Homo sapiens: one gene and its partners. The protein of the gene in region 1 interacts with the protein of each later gene in a pairwise test. Each region holds a gene or a part of one and is shown on either strand. Other genes may lie near its edges.

Region 1 (7,957 bases):
CACCCAGTCCACAGCGACACGTTCAGGATGACTAAAAATACCTGCCCAAGTTATGAAGTGCCCTCTTATAATACTCTTTAAAGTGACAGCCGGACGCGCGGGCTCACACCTGTAATCCAGCACTTTGCGAAGCCGAGGCGGGTGGATCACCTGAGGTCAGGAGTTCGAGACCAGCCTGAACAACATAGTGAAACCTCGTCTCTAATAAAAATAGAAAAAATTAGCTGGGCGTGGTGGCGCATGCCTGTAATCCCAGCTACTCGGGAGGCTGAGGCAGGAGAATCGCTTGAACCTGGGAGGCGAAGTTGCAGTGAGCCAAGATGGTGCCATTATACTCCAGCAGGGGCAAGAGCTAAACTCCATCTCACACACACACACACACACACACACACACACACACACACACACACAAAAGGCCGGGCGCGGTGGCTCATGCCTGTAATCCCAGCACTTTGGGAGGCCGAGGAGGCGGATCACGAGGTCAGGAGATCAAGACCATCCTGGCTAACACGGTGAAACCCCGTCTCTACTAAAAAAATACAAAAAAATTAGCCGGCTGTGGTGGCGGAAGCTTGAAGTCCCAGCTACTCGGGAGGCTGAGGCAGGAGAATGGTGTGACCCCGGGAGGTGGAGCTTGCAGTGAGCCGAGATCGCGCCACCGCATTAATTACGGCCTGGGCGACAGAGCAAGACTCCGTCTCAAAAAAAAAAAAAAAAAAAAAAAAAAAAAAGGTGCAAACAGACCATTCCACCCCCACCTCAGACCTGGATTTAGGTTATCTAGGTTGAAGACTGATGAGGGTGACGGGTACCACTGTCCAAAACAGAGTTAATAGAAGGGAATTACGGGCTTGCTTAAAAATGAAAGCTAATGTACGCCACTCAGTAACAGGTATCACACTGTAATACCATATGCATATTTTAGTCTTCACAACATTCAACACTCCCCACCTAGTGTTCCGGAAAAACTGTCCTACAGCCAGAATTACTTCCCAAACCTAACACTTTCATATCCAGAAGAAAATAAATTTTAAAACACTGTTTTGAAGAGAGTGCTGAACTCATCTCAAATTCTTTAAGAGCTCTGCCCTCTGGAATTCCCAACTTTCTCACCTTCCACAGCACAGATGAAGCCTGGACACTTTCCAAAAGCTTCCCAACCCCTTTGTTCTCCCACTTCCTGTCAAATCTCCACATCTACCAACTTAAGGCAACTTACTTCCCAAATTTCACAGCCTGCGTAATCCACAAAAACCCGCAGCTCGCTGAAGCGTGCATAAAAACTATTCATCCCTTTATCACGGAAGGCAGAAAGAAATGTGAAAGCACAAACTCCAAGGGAGCTTAAGGCCCTCAGGAGTGGAAACAAGTCTGGAGTCGGCGAGGCGCGGTGGCTCGCGCCTCTAATCCCAACACTTTGGGAGGCCGAGGCAGGCGATCACTTTAGGTCATAAGTTCGAGACCAGCCTGACCAACACGGTGAAACCCCCGTCTCTACTAAAAATACAAAAATTAGTCGGACATGGTGGCGAGCACCCGTAACCCCAGCTACTCAGGAGGCTGAGGCAGGAGACTCGCTTGAACCTGGGAGCTGGAAGTTGCAGTGAGTGGAGATCGCGCCACTGCACTCTGGCCTGGGCAACAGAACAGACTCCGTCTCAGGAAAAAAAAAAAAAGGAAGTCTGGAGTAAACCCAGAGAGAACGCGGGACGGGTGGACTGGCGGAGGAGTAAGGCGGCTGCATATAATTCCTTTCAGAAATCATGAATCGTTCTGATACGCAACACTATTTGGAAAAGTGCGGTTAAACACGAAGCAGCAGCAATCAAGCTTTAATGGTTAACGTCTGTTTCCTTTCTTCGGTCTTCACTCTAACTTTTCTACTAAATCAATAATTTGGCTTAAATTGTAGCGACAAATCCTTACTAAAATTCGCAACTCAATAAAAACGTTGAAAACTACAAAGAGCGCCGCTCAGCCTACTCTTCCCAAACAGGCTGAAGCCTCCGAGCTCGCAGGCGGCACCCCTTCGGTGGTGGCACGATCGTTCTACTTGCGCTGTTTCCTGCCCCGTTTACGTGAGAAGTTAGCACAGAAGTTTACGTCTGACTAGCAAACCCATCCTTTAAAAAATTCGCTAGTGCCAAAACCTTTCTCGAGCCAATATATGATTTGCAGTTTACACTGCGTGTGTCACTGACCTTCCTTAGGTAAGAGTTAATGTAAACTTCTTATATAAACTTCAGTTGCATCAACTACGGTGCAGATTCTTTAACGCAAAGCAAAGCAGACAAACATTCTGAGTGAGAAAGGCAGCCTGCTCTTCCACAAACTTCTGAACAATCCGTCCGGAGTTCTAGAAACAGGGCTTTGCGGTCCCCCACCTGCTTCTTCTCCCTCCGAACTTGGCGGCACGGCTGCGGCATTCCTGCTCCGCAAGCCACTCCCGTTTCTGGTTTCAGACGCGAGTGCGGGAGCCTTAGAAAAAGAAGGCGCTCCACGCCTCCCACGCTGCCGGCCCCGCCGAGCCCCAGCCGAGCCCCAGCCGGCCGCTCCCAGGCCGGGCCCCACCCCCAACCGCCGCCGCGGAGGCTGGGCCGCGTTCCGGCAAGGACGCCGGGCGGGGAGGACGCGGCCGGGCGGCCCCAGACCCCAGCCCCGGCCCCGGCCCCAGACCTGACCCAGAGGACCCCGCCCACCCTTCGCCCCGCAACCCCGGCCACGGCCCCCGCCCCGTCCAGTCCTTTCCCCGGCCGGCGACCCCGGTCACCCCCCGCGCTGTTGCCAGGCGCCGGGTGAGGTCCGCCGTCTGCCGGGCGCGCGCGGGGCCCTAGGCGACCTCCCCCGACCCTCGGAACAGACCCTCACCGAGGACAGAAGCGGCCGGTGGCGGGACGCAGGGGAGGCAGGGTGACGGCCCGAATCTCCTCACAGCTCCAGGACTGCTGCGCTGGTGGTGGCGGCGGCTCCTCGCGCTTTCCTTTCTCTCCTTTCTCCAACAACAAACAGGAAATGCGTCACGCGGCGGCGGCACGGCGGCGTCAACTTCCGCCCGACCCTGACGCCGCGCATGCGCAGTTTCCACTGCCCATACCGCGGGCCCAACCTCGGGGGCGCCCGCCCCACCTTCGCGAAGGTTCTCGGCTCTTCCGCCGCCCCGAAGAGCCCAGGAGACTGGGGGCGAGGGGGCGGGGAAGCCCAGGGCGAGGGGGCGGAGCTCGGGGCCGGGTCTACGGTACCGGGGAGCCCAGACGCGCGGAAGGCACAGAGAAGGCCGAGAAGATTCCAAATGGCACTTATTGTTGGGCCAGAAGGAGCCCATTCTGGAAACCGCGAAGTCGTCGCGCCCTTCATCTTCCTCTTGACCGGCGGCCCCCGGAGCGCGTCTGCCGCCTCTCGCTCCGCGGTCCTGCGGTGGAGCTGGGTGGCATCTCCGCACAGCGGGACGAAAGCTGGGGCGCGGGCGCGGGCGCGGGCGGAGAAGTCCCCGAAGGAGAAGAAGAACAAACCAAGCGGCGGCCAGCGAAGGCGGGCGAAGGCGCCGGCCCCCGCTTGTCAATTTAGGGAAGCCCGGATACCCTAAGTTCCCCGGCGAACGGGAGCGCGTGGAGACTTCGCCAGGGAATAGTGACTGAAGGAAACGGAAGCAAACTGTGGCAGAAAATACAGATGAAGCTTTTTAGGTTAAATCGTGGCAGTAGTTTTTCTGAAAACGCGGCGCATTTTGATAGCTGGACTTTAGGTCATCCCCAGGCTTCCTAGCCTTTCCCGCGTCCTCAGGGGTTCTGGTTCTAACCCTGGAGACCAACACCACATGCGTGTAGATGGTGACCAGCAGGAGCAGGGAGTCTCAGACCCAGTGCAGTCAGACAGGCTCCCATTCCCAGTAGCGAAAGGGTCCCGCAGACCCAAAGCCTAAGGAGCCAACAAGCAGTTCGTCCATGGAGCCTGGCCTGGATCTCCCACTGTCTTCCTCTCCAGCATTCAGCCAGATGTTTGCTACTGTGTTGTCTTAGTCCTGGCCCACCTTATCCTTTCCTTTAAGAAATAAAAATCTCAACTGGGTGCGGTGGCTCACGCCTGTAATCCCAACACTTTGGGAGGCCAAGGCGGGCGGATCACCTGAGGTTGGGAGTTCGAGACCAGCCTGACACATGGAGAAACCCCGTCTCTACTAAAAATGCAAAAAAAATTAGCCAGGTGTGGTGGTGCATGCCTGTAATCCCATCTACTGCAGAGGCTGAGGCAGAATAATCGCTTGAACCCAGGAGGAGGAGGTTGCAGTGAGCGGAGATCACACCATTGCACTCCAGCCTGGGCAACAAGAGCGAAACTCTGTCTCAAGAAAAAAGAAAAATCCCTTTTTGTTACACCTTTCCTGAACTTCAGATCCTGTGGCATGCTGACACTGAATTCCGGGGGCCTGCTCAGCCACCTTCTGAACTAACAACGCTTATGAATTCGTGATCGTTTAAGCCTGGGAGATATTCAAGTAAAAGGCACTTTAACACTTGAATCACTTTTGGTTTAAAATAGCTCGTTAGTAATGAAAGAGTTGGAGAAATGCCACCCTGAATTATGCCATATTAGGATACTGATTACTAACTAGTTCACTGATTACCACATTAGTATGCCCTCAAACTGAGGGCACATGGGGACCTGCCAATGCAGGGAGGGGCATTCTGTGAATCCCCCATTATTTACATAAAGACAGATCATCCCAAAGGGACTCAATTGTCTTGACCCCCTCCCTGGAAGTCTCATCCAGGGAAGAATGAGCCAGGATCACGGGAGAAGAGCTTCAAGGGACGTCAGCTGCACACCCAGACAGATTTTGCCACAGGCCACCACCTATTCTGAAGGCAAAAAATCATTTTCTCTCCCCTGAGCTGCCTGCATCTGCCTCCCCTCTCTTCTATGAAGGGGCTGTATAAGCTTCCAGATCTCACTGGATTCTGGGATGCCCTAGTACATGTTATAGATTTGTATACTTTTTCTCTTACGAATCTGTCTATTGTCAGCTTAGTTCAGAGACTCAGTTGTGAAACCTTCAGAGAGTACAGGGAAAATTTTCCGTCTACACCTGCCTCATTTTAGACAACTGGAACACTTGGTTAATGGCTGTAATTGTTATACTTCAAAATGAAATACTGCCCTTTTTTTTTTTTTTTTTTTTTTTTTTTTGAGACAGGGTCTTGCTCTGTCACCCAGGCTGGAGTGCAGTGGTTCAATCATGGCTCACTGCAGCCTTAACCTCCTGGGCTCAAGCAGTCCTCCTGCCTCAGCCTCCCAAAGTGCTGGGATTACCAGCATGAGCCGCTGTGCTGGGCTCATTTTTTGTGTTTCTTAAACTTTAATTGTATTACTGCATGTCATTTCTAGCAAATGATCAGTTAGCAAAGGAAAATCTGACTGGATTCTCTATTCTTATTTGAGACTGAGTCTCTCTGTCTGTCCTCCAGGCTGGAGTGCAGTGGCACAATCTAGGGTCACTGCAACCTCCACCTCCCAGGTTTAAGTGATTCTCTTGTCTCAGCTTCCTGAGTAGCTGGAATTACAGGCATGAGCAACCATGCATGCCTAATTTTTTGTATTTTTAGTTGAGATGCGGTTTCACAATGTTGGCCAGGCTGGTCTCAAACTCCTGACCTTAGGTGATCCACCCACCTCAGCCTCCCAAAGTGCTGGGATTACAGGCATGAGCCACCAAGCCCAGCCTCTATTCTCTTTTTTTACTGGTTATATAAATGACTGTTCAAAAGGAAGAAATAATAGTTTGTGTTAGTATGGGCATCTCATAATAAAACCTAAAATAATCTCAGCAAAGACTGGAATTTCAGATATGTGCACAGCTTGGCACTGTCACATGTAACCTATCTGCTTGCAGATTGATGGAGGTTTAGTTCCATCTCAGTGTGGACAGACAGTACTATCATGGGACATTTTACATGTCAATACGTCCCTACAGTGATTGTGAGCTCATCTTGAAATGTAAGCAGCACAGACATGAATTTTACATTGTAAGTGGTAGGCTAGCCACAAATAGCTTTTCCCCCTTCGAAAAAGAAAATATATGTGTGTGTATGTGTGTGTGTGTATATATATATACACACACACACACACATTAAAACGCGTATCAGGCTGGTCACAGTGGTGCACACCTGTAATCCCAGCACTTTGGGAAGCTGAGGCAGGAGGATTGCTTGAACCTAGGAATTCCAGACCAGCCTAGGTAACACCGCAAGACCCCATTTCTACCAAAAATAAATTATTTTTTTCTGGCACTTTGGGAGGCCGAGGCGAGAAGATTGCTTGAGCTCAAGAGTTCGACAGCAGCCTGGGCAACTTGGTGAAACCCCATCTGTACAAAATATAGCAAAATTAGCCAAGTGCGGTGGCACACACCTATAGTCCCAACCACTCAGGCGGCTGAGGTGGGAGAATCACCTCAGCCCAGGGAGGTCCAGGCTTCAGTAGAGCACCACTGTACTCCAGTCTAGGCAACACAGACCCTGTCTCAAAAATAAATACATAGAAAATTATGACCAGGCACAGTGGCTCACGCCTATAATCCCAGCTCTTTGGGAGGCTGAGGTGGGCAGATTACAAGGTCAGGAGTTCGAGACCAGCCTGGCCAACATGGCGAAACCCCATGTCTACTAAAAGTACAAAAAATTAGCCCGGTGTCGTGGCACATGCCTATATTCCCAGCTACACAGGAGGCTGAGGCAGGAGAATTGCTTGAACCCGGGAGGCAGAGGTTGCAGTGAGCAGAGATCGTGCTTCTGCACTCTAGCCTGGGTGACAAAGCAAGACTCTGTCTCAGGAAAAAAAAAGAAAAAAGAAAATTTTCTGGGCATGGTGGCACACACCTATAGTCCCAGCTACTCAAGAGGCTGAGTAAGAGGACCACTTGAGCACTTGAGACTAGGAGGTCGAGGCTGCAGTGAACAGTGATCATGTCATGGCACTGCAGCCTGGGTGCCAGAGCAAGACTCTGTCTCTAAACAAATACATACATAATTTTTAAGAAGCATGTCAATACAATAAATTTTATCATGAAGAAAAGCAACCAGTACAAAACAAGGTCCCCATCCTGATGGACTTCACATAGCAGTTAGGGAGGACAGGTATAAACACCTTGGAGATTAAATGGTAATATTTAATTAACTCTTTTGAAACAACGAGGTCTTTCAATGACAAGGATTTATCCCAGAAAAGATTTAAGTAGGAGTGAAAAGTCTTTGGAGACCGAGTGCGGTGGCTCACGCCTATAATCCCAGCACTTTGGGAGGCCGAGGTGGGCAGATCCCCTGAGGTCAGGAGTTCAAGACCAGCCTGGTCAACATGGTGAAACCTGGTCTCTACTAAAAATACAAAAAGTAGCCGGGCGTGGTGGCGCATACCTGTAATCCCAGCTACTCGGGAGGCCGAGGCAGGAGGATCACTTGAACCTAGGAGGTGGAGGTCACGGTGAGATGATATCGTGCCATTGCACTCCAGCCTGGGCAACAGGAGTGAAACTCCGTCTCAAAAAATAAAAGAAAGAAAGGAGGAGCGTGGAGAATGTGGATGGATTTGGGGTAATGGCTTGCAGGGAGCCCCGGGGGTTGAGGGCAGCTGAAATGTTCAAGGCCAAAAGTGGACCGAGAAGCTTCATGGGCCAGCAAGCACAGAGGCTGCAGGGCAGAGGGAAGAGGACCCAGTGCTGACTGGGGCCAGACTGGAGGCTGAGTGGCCACAGGGGTGCGAGGCATGGTTCCCTGTGGTGCCCACATCCCCTGATGCCCAATAAAACTTTAGGGCTGATGACGCACTGACTTTACCCACATCAACAAGCCTCGGTTTCCCTATCTGTAAAATAGGAAGAAGGATAGCTACGGATAGCTACTATACTGGTATCAGAAATAAACAGGGCAGTGTATGAGAACTGTGGTATCTCACACACATACTTATT
Region 2 (7,233 bases), on another chromosome or scaffold:
TAGGGATCACTAGGCCAAGGGGAGCATGGGCTGAAAGACCACCTGTTGTGTACTATGCTTATGGCCTGTGTGATGGGATAATTGGGACCCCAAGCATCGGCATCAATTTACCCATGTAACAAATCTACACATGTACCCTCTACTATATAAGTTGAATTTTTTTTTAAAAAAAGGTTACCATCCAGCAGAAACTGCAAACAGAATTTTATTAATGATTTAATTTTTGCTATGCCAGCCATTTACAGTTTTCTCTTCTACAATTTCAGAAATGCCAATTCCACAATGGATATCAGATTGTACCCTTACAGAGAATTCTATTAAACTTCCCCCTAAATAATACCCCCACTTTCTAAGTGTTTAAATAACATTCACATGTGATTCCCAAAGAAGTTGTTTATCCTTTAAAACTAGTCTGGGCTGTGGTCAGGTATGAAAGTGAAAGAGGCCAGGTGCAGTGGCGCACGCCTGTAATCCCAGCACTTTGGGAGGCCGAGGTGGGTGGATCATCTGAGGTCAGGAGTTTGAGACCAGCATGGCCAACATGGTGAAACCCGGTCTCTACTAAAAATACAAAAAAAAATTAGCCAGGCATGGTGGTGAGTGCCTGTAGTTCCAGCTACTCAGGAAGCTGAGGCAGGAAAATCGCTTGAACTTGGGAGGTGGAGTTTGCAGTGAGCCAAGATTGCGCCACTGCACTCCAGCCTGGGTGACAGAGTGAGACTCGGTTTCAAAAAAAAAAAAAAGAAAGTGAAAGAAATGACAGAATCTCAAGTCCCTTCATCTTACTTATCTTTAAAACATTCCTGCAGCTAAATGAAGACATTAATGACCTTAATATCAATCTTTTAGGAGTTCTTAAAATACCTATGAAGCACCAATGGCAAACATTTTTAAAGTCTGTTTAGAATACTATATCCTTTGGACCAGTCACCAAAATTTATTTATAAACACATTTGTACAGTACTGCTGATTACACTTCCATGGTTATTTGACCTGAACAACCAAGTGATTAACCATAATGCTATGGTCTGCATGTTTGTGTTCTTCAAAATTCTTGTGGAAATCCTAGTTTCCAAGGTCATATCAGGAGGTGGGGCCTTTGGGAGATGACTGTATTATGAAAGCAGAACCTTAATGAATGGGATAAATTCCCTTATAAGAGGCCAGAGAGAGACCCCTTCACCCTTGCACCATGTAAGGAGACAGCTAGAGGGTGCCATCTATTAACCAGAAAGCAGGCTATCACCAAACACTGAATCATCAGACATCTTGATCTAGGACTTCCCAGCCTCCAAAACTGCAAGAAATGAATTTCTGTTGTTTATAAGCCACTCAGTCTGAGGTATTTTGCTATACCAGACCCAAATGGACCAAAGACACATAGAGTATATTTTTAATGCAGCTCAAGGGAGTGTGGAGAAAGAAGGAAAAGAGCATTTGTTGAGGGCTTACCATGGGCTAGGAACAGTTCTCAATACTTTACAGACACCTAATTTATTACTATCAACAAAATTATGAGGTGGATATTATTCCTACTTTACAGATAAGAAAGGCTCAGAAAAATTAATTTGCCAAAAACAAGGGTTGGGGCTGAGATTCAAACTCAAAACAGTCTGCCTTCAAAGCCATCAGATTACTTCTCCCACAGACAACCTTCCAAATCACATTAAAACTTGACTCTTTGATTGATTAAAAATATTAATTCTTTAGTGGATATCATTCTTCAAGTGGCATAAATCATCTGCAACCAACAAACTTTGAGGAAAAGTCATAGTTAACAGAAATAACAGAAGGGAAAGAGCACCAGTATAGGCCAGAGTGGGACAGTGGTCAGACTACCAACCTTAGGTCAGAAAACTTAACCCCAGATTTACCACTCACCAGCTGGTGATCTAAGGCAAGTAATAACCTTTTGAGCCCCCGTTTCTCCATTCATAAAATAAGTATTACTCCTAGCCCATCCATCCTTCTACCAGATTATTTATGAAGATGAAAAGTTAATGATGAAATTAATCCATAAACTAAGACAAACTATAATTCATATAAGGAATTAGTATCTGTTCGGTAAAATGACTATTAATGAATAGCTATTTTCATGGAAAATAACTTGTCACAACTAGAATAAGAGATGCAGTCCACCAGCAACAGGAAGCTGCTCACAAACAGGCGGCCTCATCTCAGCTGGGGCCCCCTTAACAGCAGCAGGTGTTGCTTACAGGACCAGTTTTGTGCCTGCTTTCTAACAATCCCGTTCCTCCCTGGTGCCGTTCCCACGAACGCGCCTGGAAAACGGTGTAGAGGAAAGGCGCCAAGGAAGTGCTGTTTTGGAAAAGAGCAGCAACAGAGGCAGGAGGCTGGGTCCCACTACTCCCAGGTGCGAGAGGCTCTTCGCCCCTCCAGGCCTCAGCGCACGCATCTGGAAGACGGAGAGGCCATTCCTGCCCCGTTTCCTGGGCAGAGCTAAGATCAGAGTACAGGGAAAGCATGGTAAACCCCGCTGGGAATGACAGATGACGAAGACGATCACCTGTCAAACGAAGGGAGGCTCCTCCAGGGGCCCCTCGCATTTAGACATTCCAGAAGCCTCGTCACCCGCGGCCGGGGCTGCCCCCAAGTGAGGTGACGCGGCAGCCCCCCACTCACCCCTCAGACCGCGTAGTGTGCGGGGTCTCACGTCCCTCACACCCCAGATGAGCCCGCAGGGCAGGGCCCGGACGCGGCTCACCCCAGCCCCCGTCCCGAGGCCTCCGAGGCCGACCTCCGAGCCCTCCCCAGGCGACCGCGGCTCCCCTCCCCCAGCAACGATCCCTGCCCCGCTCAACTCGCACTCCCAGGTGAGGGGAGGGGGTGAAAGGGCGTACCCCGCCGCCATTTTGTCCCCTGGTCCCCGCAAGGCATTCAGACGGCCCGCGCCCCAACCCGGACCCGCCCGGGTCTGCGCTACGCACGCCCCTCGCGGACACTCACCCCCGACCGCCCTGCTTAGTTCGGGGCGGCTCAAAGCGTCCCGCCGGGAAAGGGGCGTGACGGGGCGGGGCAGGGAGGCCTCGGAGAGGCGGGGTGGCTTCCCGGCGCACCACGTGATCTCAGCCGCTGCCGCGCCGCTCCCGGCTGCAAGATCTGTGTTGTCCGCGCGCAGGCGCACGCCCGTTCGCGCCGTTGGGGCGCCCAGGCGGGAGGTGTGAGGGTTGATTTGGTTCGATGTCCCGGCGCGGCGTTTCCGAAGCTGTTTCTTTTCCTAGGTTAAGCTTACACCGCCGCTTTTGGCCACACAGGTCTTTCTCGTACTCAATCTCTTCCCTCCTCCTGCCTTATCACCACAGTCAATCCACAGATTAAGGACTTAGAGACGCGCCTCACAGAAATCTGTGCTGGCGAAAGCACTTGACAGGAGCACGCTGGGCTGCGCTGAACACAACTAGGCCTCCGAGAAGCTTTATCAGGGCCCTTCTGTGTGCCAGGCTTGGAAGGTCGAAGTACAGAGACCTAACAAATACGTTTCATCTACTTCAAAGACAAACATATGATGAATTAAATACTTTAACGTTTAAATCAGTCTGAACAAAATAGAAAAAAGATTCAATGCAGACTGTAATTATCAAACGAATATTCACCGTCCCTTTTCATCCAGCTGGGAAACAGCTCTTTACCCTTCCCTCTCCCTCCCCACCCGCAGTAGGCGGGAAGTCCTGGACTCACAAGCGTTGTGGGGGCAGGAACCATATGGCTATGTTCTGGCTCCCCTTCTCTCTTGCCTTCTTAGAAAACTCGCTTTTTCATTTATTCAGCAAATGTTTATTGACCACATACTATATATCAGATGGTATTCTAGATGCTTGGAGTTAATACGTGAGCAAAATAAACAGAAATCTCTAAAAAACCTCCGGCTTCTTGGAGCAGGGTGAAACCAGGCAAGTGTTACATCAAGTTTAGCCAAAAGCTGTGTCCTTACATATTTTAAGTTCAGCCTGAAGGTTTCTCCGTAAATAGTAAACTATAACCTAAATGGAGGTGTAAATACACTGCAACCTACTCTTGCGCCAATCACCAAGTTTTGGCCAAAGACGGCCAACTGTTCAAACCGTGTTCAAATAAGGTAAACGTCTAGCTATAACCATTCTGGCTGTTTCCCTACCTCACTTTTCTTTCTCTGTCTATAAACCTTTTTCCACCATGTGGCTCTGCGGGAGTCTGTATGAACCTACTCTGGCTCAGGAGGCTGCCTGATTCGGGAATAATTCTTTGCTCAAACTCTGTTTAATTTGGCTAATATTTTGCTTTTAACACAAGAAATAGTAAACACAATAAATAAGTAAATTATATAACATGATAAGCACTACAGTTAACAAAATGAGTAGGATAAGGGGGATAGAGTAGGGAGCATACTACAATTCTATAAAAGGCGGTCAGGGCCTCATTTCTTAATTATCCCCACTTCCTTTCATACTCATAAGCATGTAAACAACCTGAAGTCTCTCCCATCTTGAAATCTCCCGCCGAACCTACCAGACTCCACTTCAACCTCTGCTTTCTTTCCTATAATACATTTCTCCAATTATCTAAACAAGAGTGCCTCCAATTCCTCAACCACTACTCAAGTCTGGACTTACTGCACTCTGGTTTCTGCCCCACCACCCCACTGAAACCATTCTTTCCAACATCACTAGGGGCCAGCCGCCGTGGCTCGCGCCTGTAATCCCAGCACTTTGGGAGGCTGAGGCAGGTGGATCACCTGAGGTCAGGAGTTCAAGACCACCCTGGCCAAAATGGCGAAACCCTGTCTTTACCAAAAATACAAAAAAAAAAAAAAAAAAAATAGCCGGGTGCGGTGGCGCACACCTATAGTCCCAGCTACTCGGGAGGCTGAGGCACGAGAATCCCTTGAACCTGGATAGCAGAGGTTTGCAGTGAGCTGAGATCATGCCACTGCACTCCAGCCTGGGTGACAGTGCGAGACTCCATCTCAATTAAAAAAAAAAAAAAAAAAAAAGTTGGGCTGGGCTGGTGGCTCCCGCCTGTAATCCCAGCACTTTGGGAGGCCGAGGCAGGCAGATCACGAGGTCAGGAGATCGAGATCGAGACCATCCTGACCAACATGGTGAAACCCCATCTCTACTAAAAATAACAAAAATTAGCTGGGCGTGGTGGCATGTGCCTGTAATCCCAGCTACTCAGGAGTCTGAGGCAGGAGAATCGCTGAACCAGGGAGACGGAGGTTGCAGTGAGCACAGATCATGCCACTGCACTCAAGCCTGGCGACAGAGCGAGACTCTGTCTCAAAAAAAAAAAAAAAGTCACTAGGGATTTCCCTACTATATATCTTATGGACATTATCATCATTACCTAACTTAATTTCTCTTCATGACCCTCCTTCCTTCTGGAAATACTTTTCCTTGCCTTTCATTTTTACTCTCTTGGTAGCACTTCTCCATCTCTAACCACTCCCTCTCCATCTCTTTTAAAGTCTCTCTTATTTCTCCCAGCCTTTAAATATTGTTATCCCACAGGAATAGGTATAAGCCTTCACTCTTTTCCCACTGGACACACTCTCTACATGACCACTGCCTTTTACATAACTTTGGTTAGCATCTTTATGCTCTGGATTTCCGAATATATATCCCCAGCCCTGATTCCTACTCCTGGGATCCAGGCCACATTGTTAACTACCTACTGGTCATCTCCACTTGAATTAATAAAAATAAATATGACAAAAATAAAAATGATTCATCTTTCTTATATACATATAAAACAGCTTTATTGAGATGTAACCTACATACAAATCAGTGGTTTTTAGGATATTCACACAATTGTACAATCATCACTGCATTTTCTTTACCCCGGAAAGGAACCCAGTACTCACTTCTCCATTTTCCCTCAATTCTCTCAGCCATAGGCAACCACTAATCTACTTTCTCTATGCATAGATTTGCCTACTCCGGACACCTTGTATAAAGGGAGTCATGAGATGTGGTATTTTGTAACTGGCTTCTTTCACTTTGCATATATTCGAGGTATGTTTCTGGGCGCGGTGGCTCACGCCTGTAATCCCAGCACTTTGGGAGGCCAAGGCAGGCGGATCACAAGGTCAGCAGATCGAGACCATCCTAGCTAACAAGGTGAAACCCCGTCTAGACTAAAAAATAGAACAAATTAGCTGGGCGTGGTCGTGGGCGCCTGTAGTCCCAGCTACTGGGGAGGCTGAGGCAGGAGAATGGTGTGAACCCAGAAGGTGGAGCTTGCAGTGAGCCAAGATCGCTCCACTGCACTCCAGCCTGGGTGACAGAGTGAAACTCCATCTCAAAAAAAAAAAAAAAGGTATGTCCACGTTGTAGCATGCATCAACGCTTCATTCCTTTTTAAGGCTGAATAATAGTCCATTGTATAGAATATATAATCACCTTTTATTTATCCATCAGTGGAAGGACATACAGACTATTTCCACTTTTTGACTATTATGAACAATGCTGCTATGCGCATTCATTTACAAGTTTTTGTGGGGATATATATTTTCATTTATTTTGGGTATATTCCTAGGAGTAGAATTGCTGGGCTACATAGTAACTGTATTTTTAAATTTTTCTGGATCTGCTAGATGATTTACCAAACCAGCTACACCATTTTATACTCCCACCAGCAGCATATAAGGGTTCCAGTTTCTCCACATCTTTTCCAGCACTTACCATTGTCTGTCTTTTTTATTACAACCATCTGAGTGGATGTGAAGTGGTATCTCATTGTAGTTTTGATCTGGACTTCCCTGATAGCATAGTTTCATGTGCTTATTGGCCATTTATGTATGGTATTAGATAAATGTCTATTGAAATCCTTTGCCAATTTTTTAATCAGGTTACCACTCATTTTCTTTTGCCACAAAATCTATTCCTATTAATGATATGCCAAACAGTCTGGTTCCCCTCCGTGATGTGCTGCTGCCTTGGCCCCACTGATGGCAGATAGGTAACTTGCTTCAGCCAATAAAATGTAAGCAGGAATGTCAGTTCCAAGCAGAATTTATAAGAGCTAGCTTGTGCGTTCATCATGTCTCTTTTCTGTCTGCCACAAGCAATTTGTTTTAGAGAGAAGCTATTCCATCAGCATAAGTTCCATACTAGAGATGACATGGAGCAGAACTGCAGCTGATCCCCAGTGGATATGTAGCATTTTATATGGTTTGACTGTGTCCCCACCCAAATATCATCTTAAATTATAATCCCCATAATCCCCACATGTCTA
Region 3 (7,713 bases), on another chromosome or scaffold:
CCTGGGCTCAAGTAATCCTCCTGCCTCAGCCTTCCAAGTAGCTGGGACTACCGGCATACATCACCATGCCTGGTTAATATTAAACATTTTTGTAGAGATAGGGTCTCACTATGTTGCTCAAGCTGGTCTCCAGCTCCTGGCCTCAAGCAATCCTCCCATCTTAGTCTCCCAAAGGGCTGGGATTATAGGTGTGAGCCACCATGCCTGGCCCAATTTTATATATAAAGATATATGTGTGTGTGTATATATATATATATATGTGTATATATATGTGTGTGTGTGTATATATATACACATACACCTTTCCTAGAAGAGGAATTATCTATCATTTTCAAAGTTATTTACATTTTAGCCTTTTTCATACTTATTGTCAAATTGTCCTTCCCCAAAGTTTTAAAGTTTACACAACCATCAACAGTGTATGGAAGTTAAGGCATGAAGAACTCACATTGCTTTTAGCACTACTTTTACACACTTCATCTATAAATCAACATCTAAAAGAGTATTTCCGTGTGACCCATGCACGGTTCATTTGAGCATTCACAGGGTGTTCCCCACAGCCTGGTACATTACAGCTTTTGTCATAACATGAACAGCAATCGGCTCAAAACACTGCCCATTGTGATGCTGATGATGAGACCTCCCTAATGTTCTAAAAGATTGTTTGGTGTAACCACTTTAGCTCAGACCTTTCTTTTAACCTTGCCTATCATGTTTCGAGTCAGAATTTAAATACTGTGCAGTTTAAGCTACAATACGCTTGGCCTATAACTTGGTTCCAGGCATTTATATTTATGTCACTTTTGTCTACTTATTATACTAACAAGGTGGAAAAAGCAATCCCAGTCTCTCCAAAAGGTAAAACTCTCCTGTTTTTTTGGATATTATTAGAGTTTTAAAATTAGGCTAGATAAATTATAGTACCCTTAGGAATAAGTGCATAAAGGGAGTTTTATGAAATATTTTAAGAAGAACACATTTAAAAATCCAAACTGAAATATAAAATGTAATTTCTTAAGAACTGGAGGCAAGAGACATTACAAAAATAAAATATTAAATTGTTGTCTTAAGACATAATTTTAATTAATATAAATAGAAGTATTTAGTCTTATTTAAACTGCATATTTTTTCATCACAAAAGCAATGAACAGAGCATCTTCTCTCTTGTCTCGTAATCTTTTGAGTCAAAATGCTTTAAATTCCAACTAATCTCAGTTGAAGCTTCTATTTATCAGGCTATTTCCTTAATGACTTTTTTTCTGATGTGTGGCTTTAGGTGGTTGCCATTAATGAAAAAATACAAAGACTACAGATGTGAAATGTTGGAGAGGACAATAATTACAATAGTTTTAAGTTTTCACTGATACAGATTCTAACAGGGGTGTGCAATCAATGACTACCAAAAAGTCACTTTAATTAAATAATCTTACCCTAGAGAAGAGTGTGCTCCCGTATAAAGCTTTATTTTTCATTTTTATTCTTGTTCTTTTTTCTGTGGCCCAAGATCACTTGGCAATTTGATACTGATTTGGCAGAAATAAATATTCTATGAATATTTTTCTACTCAAAGTGAATACAGTTTTGTTGGCTGTGATACTCTATACCTCTTAATTTCAAGCTGTGACGTTTTTGCCAAACAACTGAATTTAGATTTGCCAAACAACTGAATTTAGATATTCCTTTTGCCGTGTCGTTGTGTGAACATTGCCCTAGTGATAGCTTCATATTTCCCTCATCTCATCATTCAGAAGCTATTTATCTATTTTTTTCCACTGCCTCCTTCAAACCCCCTCCCCCAACATTGAATGCCTGTTCAGCCCCCGCATATTCATCCGTATTTATTCCCGTAAAGATAGTGACACTTATGGTTTATTCTAAGACTAAATCTGTGTTGCCCAGTGACTAAGGACTTAAGCATGCACACTGCTTCTATGCTTACCCTCCTACCTAACTTGACTACTCAACATTTTTATTTCATTCCCTCAGAATCCCCTGTTTTGGCACAGTTCAGTTAACACACCACTGCCAGGCCACTAATTGATTTCTGAAACCTGACATTTGTTTTTTGTTTTCTCCTATCTTCCCTAATGGTACAGCACTACTAAGCGGGAAGGAATGCAAAGAACTAGAAAGTTCAAAGTAATTGAGGATCTGTCCATTCACACTGTCTGGCTTCAAGCCAATGTAGAACCTGGAACATTTGAAAAATATTTATCAAGTTTTAACCCTTTTTACTAAGTCGGTGAAACAGGTTTGCAGCTGTAGCATTTATGTTAAAAGCAACAGCAAGGAAACTTGGTCGAACATGTTCTTTATATGTTCAGAATCACATGGCAAATGTCTCCGAAAAGGATTACTTTCCAATTTCCGTACTATTGTACAGTGCTAAGCTAGTTATTTTCTGTGAGACTGCAGAGCAGGGCATTTCAGAGAAACTATTACTTAAAAGTGGCAGCCCTATTTCATGAATCTTTATGCCCAAAATGGAATTTTAAAACCTGCTACTGTATTGGAGCAAAAAGGAATATATTCAGTTACTATAAGAACCCCAACGCTAGCTTCATATCTATATTATGAAAAGTGGAAATATGAAAAATTAACAAGACTAAAAATATTAAAAACTTAGTTGTATGGTTTTTTTTTTGCAATGAAAAAGCTTTTGTAAATGAAAGCATGTTAAAAAGTGGTGTGAAATTATAGAAGCATTTCCAGTAAAATACATGGATTTTATTGCAGTGAAAACTTAGGTTGAAAGACCGGGCCACTGAAGCTCTCGTAAAAAGACAAAAGGAAAGGTCTAGATAGGTTTAAAAGCACATTAAGATACAGCTACCGAATGTATTAAATCTAAGTTAGATTTAGCTTAAAGTTACAAGAGCACAAAAGTTCTATTAAGAATTATCTACATCACATTTAGGTTTGATGTTATCAGAATTAAGTAACTAAAAATCTTTCAAAGCTCAATTTTTTAAAAGAGTTACATTAAATCCCATCCTAATTCTATAATCTGTTTCTAAGCTAATTAATTACATGATAGGTTTTACATTAGAGAAAAGCAGGACAGCTTTTTAAAGATGAAGATGGACAGCATGGGGCTGCTTGGTTAGAGAAAAACTTGCAAAAGCACTTATTAAATAATACTTTGATAACATGAAAGTAGTCATCAGCCATTCTCTGAAGGCAGTGATCACAGCTATAAAAATGAATCATGTGTCAACAGGAAGAGAAGGAAAAGGAGAAAAACCCAGTTTACAGCATAATTTTATATTTTCTAATAATAAATACATTTCTTTATGTGCATATTAATTTTCTACCCATTGAAAATGAGATCCATACCTTTGATAGATACACTCTTTGAAGTGAACGTTTTTATCCAAGACTTTTTTTTAAAGCTGTTTTACTCTGAAGTGATGAATAGGCTGTGGTATATGTAAAACTGTCTAATGGTATATTGTGTGTCAACATATGTACATTTGTAGTAATATCACAGGCATTTTTATTGCAGTTTATTGTTCCGTCCTCCCAATAAGCCAGATAAAATCATGTACAAGAACATTAAGGATTAAGGGAAGTGGTTTCCTTAGGTGATTGCTGGCAAAAATTCACCCTCCCATTATAACAACATAGTAAATGGATGGTAATATATTTGGCTATTACTTTCCAACAAATTTGGATTCCCAGTTTTCAGAGCTGCTCTGTGTCTATGTTTGCGGCTTTTTGATTGTCTCTTCGTAGGAAAAGGTGCCACAATGTGAGGTAAATGTGCTAGGTTTCTGCTTTGTAAATATTAAAGTCCATTTTTTGAACATACAGTGCTAGCAAAAATAAGTCAAAGATGTAATGTCTATTTAAATACACGTTTGAGCTAGTCGTGCTTAAATTAGATTCCATGCTTCGGCTAGAATCAACACGGCTTAAATATTAGAAACTTCAAAATTCATATGGCCCAAGCCCTCCTCCCCACACACGGATGGGAAGTAGAAATGTGTGGGAAAACGTCTAGCAATTAAAATCCTGAAGGAGTGGGAAAAACCCAGGCTTTTATGCAAGGATCTGAAAAAACGCTTGCCATCAAATCTTTTATTCAGGCATTCTGAATTTGCCTTGTTAAACGGATACACTCACTGCTAAAGATACACAGGGACAAGAGCTGTTTTAAATTTGTTTATCACACCGCCCCTAGTTTTCTGCTAAAGAGAAGTACATTTTGGATATTTAAAAGTACACACTCATTAGACAAATCTCTAAAAGCCTCAGCGCCCCTACCTAGCTGCCTTCTGGGTTTCAGCTTTTGAGTTTCAGGTCCTTGCACAACACCTAAGACGTGCAATACTCTTTTTCTTCCTAATCCTGGCAGAGAACAGTGCGAAGAGATCTCCCTCCGCGTCTCCACCCTAATTCCCCCTCTTCCCAGATTCCACCCGCTCCGCTACTTCCCTCCGCCCCCGGCTCCGCCAGCCCAATCTGTCAGAGAAGTTGTGTACAAACTGCGCGGCCGCCCTGCGCGCGAAGCTCGTGGCCCGAGAGGGGTGCGGTCGGGCCGACGGAGGCGGGGCCCTGGCTGCCTCTCTCCCTGCTCATAGGCTGGCCGCTCAGGCCTGGCCGGCCTCGGGGCCTCGGGATTCGCGGCGGCGCTGCCAATCAGGCGATCGGGCCCCGCCCCCCCGGAGTTGGGTGAAATAGAGGCGGGCGTCAAGTGTCAGTAGTCGCGGGGCAGGTACGTGCGCTCGCGGTTCTCTCGCGGAGGTCGGCGGTGGCGGGAGCGGGCTCCGGAGAGCCTGAGAGCACGGTGGGGCGGGGCGGGAGAAAGTGGCCGCCCGGAGGACGTTGGCGTTTACGTGTGGAAGAGCGGAAGAGTTTTGCTTTTCGTGCGCGCCTTCGAAAACTGCCTGCCGCTGTCTGAGGAGTCCACCCGAAACCTCCCCTCCTCCGCCGGCAGCCCCGCGCTGAGCTCGCCGACCCAAGCCAGCGTGGGCGAGGTGGGAAGTGCGCCCGACCCGCGCCTGGAGCTGCGCCCCCGAGTGCCCATGGCTACAAGGGTGCTGAGCATGAGCGCCCGCCTGGGACCCGTGCCCCAGCCGCCGGCGCCGCAGGACGAGCCGGTGTTCGCGCAGCTCAAGCCGGTGCTGGGCGCCGCGAATCCGGCCCGCGACGCGGCGCTCTTCCCCGGCGAGGAGCTGAAGCACGCGCACCACCGCCCGCAGGCGCAGCCCGCGCCCGCGCAGGCCCCGCAGCCGGCCCAGCCGCCCGCCACCGGCCCGCGGCTGCCTCCAGAGGACCTGGTCCAGGTAGGAAGAGCCGCTCCCCTCCCACCGCAGCACTCCCGGGCTCGGGCGTGTCCCGTTGCTGCGACTCGCGGGCGACAGGGGCCGCTCCAGGCTGGGGCGTGCGTCGGGGCGCACCGGAGCCGGTGCTGGGTGGGCAGCCCCGCCCTGCACGCCTGGCCGGGGCCCCGCGTTTCGCTGAGAGTAAATGGGGGGGGGGGCCGGGGGTGGGAAGGATGGAGGGGAATCTGCCCCGGCGGGTCGGCCTGGGAGAGGTAAGAGGGAGGGAACTGGGTGCTCACGCGCACCTTAGTTGTTTTTCTTACACTTGAGGGACGAAACCTTGTACCTTACGCTCAGTTTTACTTAAATTACGCCTTCGCCTGTACCGCTCTCCAATGCCAAGGCATTGGAGCCCTCCCCCCCATCCCCATCGTCTCGGGTTAAGTAGAAACGCAAATTGGGGTGCTGGGGAGAGGTTCCCCAAGGTTTCATACCCGGTGGCTCAACCTGCTTTAGAAGCGATTGCGGGCCGCGTTTGGAAAATGAGAGTTAGGAAAGCTAAGGTTGTGTCGGAGCGCTTATTTTTCCTTAAAAAAAAAAAAAAAAAAAAAAGACCGGGGGTGTTGTTTTCTTCGTGTGCACGTAAATTTCCTCCCGGAGCCGCGTTGAAAGCTGGCAGTTGGCTTTTACACTTGCCCAGCAGCCGAATTAGAGCAACCGCCTGTTTCTTTCGCCCACGCAGGGAGTCATATAGCCCAGAAAAAACTTCCCGGGACTTTTAGCCTGTCCCAAGGAAAAAAAAATTGGAAACATACCCACATGCAAACAGCTGGAAGAGCTAAAATCAGAAACCACTAACCGCCGCGGGAGCGCAGTGCACGAAAGGGTTTAGTTCAGTTTATTTCAAGACACTTCATTTAGTAGCTCTTTGGCGTGTCGTATATTTGCTACCCAGCGCCTACTCCGTGGGGTCTGCCAGGGTCTTGCTGTGAGAGGGCAGTGGCGTTTGTCAGAGATGTGACTCACATGATGAGAGCGTTAATTTTTATTTTTAAATCATGTCTATCCGGGAAACCCCGTCCGCATCCACACCAAGGTCCGAGATGAAACGCATTTGAAATGAAGTAGTAGCAGAAAATGACTGTCTTATTTACCTGTTAAGGTGCCACAGCTAATATATGCGCCATTCCATCTAGTTGGTTTTCTTATCTTTCGAAATTTCCTTTTCAGTGTTAAAAAATGTAGGCTTAAGTTATACTAGGAGAGAAGATAGCTGGAAAAGGCTTGAGGCGACTTGTTACAAGCTGGTTTATAGCCTAGAAAAGAGATCACCGTTTGAAAAGTATTTGGTTATTTCAGTTTGTCAATTTTCTGCTCTGGAGGCACTAAGAAGATAAGGGATGACTGAGCTTTTTACAGAGTAGGGGGGAATGTAGCATTGGCCCACTGAGAAGGACATGATAAATGTTTTGCTGATGACTGTGCTAGGGATACAGCAGCCTCCCCACCCACGGGCTCCTTAGCAGCACTCTACCAAGGGAGTGATTTTCCCCTAGGTAATTAAAGATCTGTTTTAGATAGGGATATGAATAGGAACATTTCATTATCATATTAACCAATTACAGGATCTGCTGATGAAAATCAACATTTAGATCAAATATTGAATGTGAAATTGTTTTGTTTCAGTGGATACAAGGTTTTGCTTAGAACGTTGTGTTTAATTTCTCATTGAACTGTAAACAAGAAAAGACACTGAAATAGCCAAATAATATTTTTATATTACTTTTGAAGTATCTAGTCAAGAAAAGAAACCTGTGCAATATTTTAAAGGTTTGCATCGTTTTTTCTATTAAAAAAAACCACGCTTTTTAATGTTTGTGACTTAAACAGAATTGAGGTAGTTTGGCAACATTTCAATACTGTACTCTAATTGCAAACTTAACTGTGTAATGGGGCAGGGAATCCTGCTTGTACAGGGGTGATGGTACCTTGTTATTGCATCAGAATGGAATGTTTTAAGTTTGCTTTCTTTTTTATTCTTGATTTGCGTCTTTCACTTTTGGGGGTGATTGGGGGAGCAGTTTTACCAGTTACACAGAGTTTCATAAGGTTTTGGTCAACCAGTTATTACACAATCGACAAAATAAGCCTGATATGTTTATAAGCAACACTGAGGAGTTTGCCCTAGTACCTTACACAGGGATTGGGGGAATTTTTAGTAGGCGCCGATTGTTCGTTCTTCCCGAGATGGTGAATCAGGTGGATTATGCATTTTATATCTCTTCTTTTTTAGACAAGATGTGAAATGGAGAAGTATCTGACACCTCAGCTTCCTCCAGTTCCTATAATTCCAGAGCATAAAAAGTATAGACGAGACAGTGCCTCAGTCGTAGACCAGTTCTTCACTGACACTGAAGGGTTACCTTACAGTATCAACATGAACGTC

The links.
Region 2: the proteins of DNAJB6 (region 1) and SCAPER interact in binary tests that used the Homo sapiens proteins (3 or more experiments, as listed by UniProt).
Region 3: the proteins of DNAJB6 (region 1) and KLF5 interact in binary tests that used the Homo sapiens proteins (3 or more experiments, as listed by UniProt).

The regions. Positions count from the first base shown.
Region 1 is NC_000007.14:157,332,056-157,340,012, reverse strand, and holds the start of DNAJB6 (dnaJ homolog subfamily B member 6), read right to left. Parts: upstream 3,010-7,957; 5' UTR 2,869-3,009; intron 2,460-2,868; exon of another isoform or gene 2,202-2,459; intron 1-2,201. UniProt on the Homo sapiens protein: Has a stimulatory effect on the ATPase activity of HSP70 in a dose-dependent and time-dependent manner and hence acts as a co-chaperone of HSP70. Plays an indispensable role in the organization of KRT8/KRT18 filaments.
Region 2 is NC_000015.10:76,902,332-76,909,564, forward strand, and holds the start of SCAPER (S phase cyclin A-associated protein in the endoplasmic reticulum), read right to left. Parts: upstream 3,010-7,233; 5' UTR 2,968-3,009; exon of another isoform or gene 2,873-2,967; coding exon of another isoform or gene 2,862-2,872; intron 2,461-2,861; exon of another isoform or gene 2,417-2,460; coding exon of another isoform or gene 2,283-2,416; intron 1-2,282. UniProt on the Homo sapiens protein: CCNA2/CDK2 regulatory protein that transiently maintains CCNA2 in the cytoplasm.
Region 3 is NC_000013.11:73,054,301-73,062,013, forward strand, and holds the start of KLF5 (Krueppel-like factor 5), read left to right. Parts: upstream 1-4,704; 5' UTR 4,705-5,027; coding exon 5,028-5,288; intron 5,289-5,381; exon of another isoform or gene 5,382-5,500; coding exon of another isoform or gene 5,501-5,539; intron 5,540-7,560; coding exon 7,561-7,713. UniProt on the Homo sapiens protein: Transcription factor that binds to GC box promoter elements. Activates the transcription of these genes.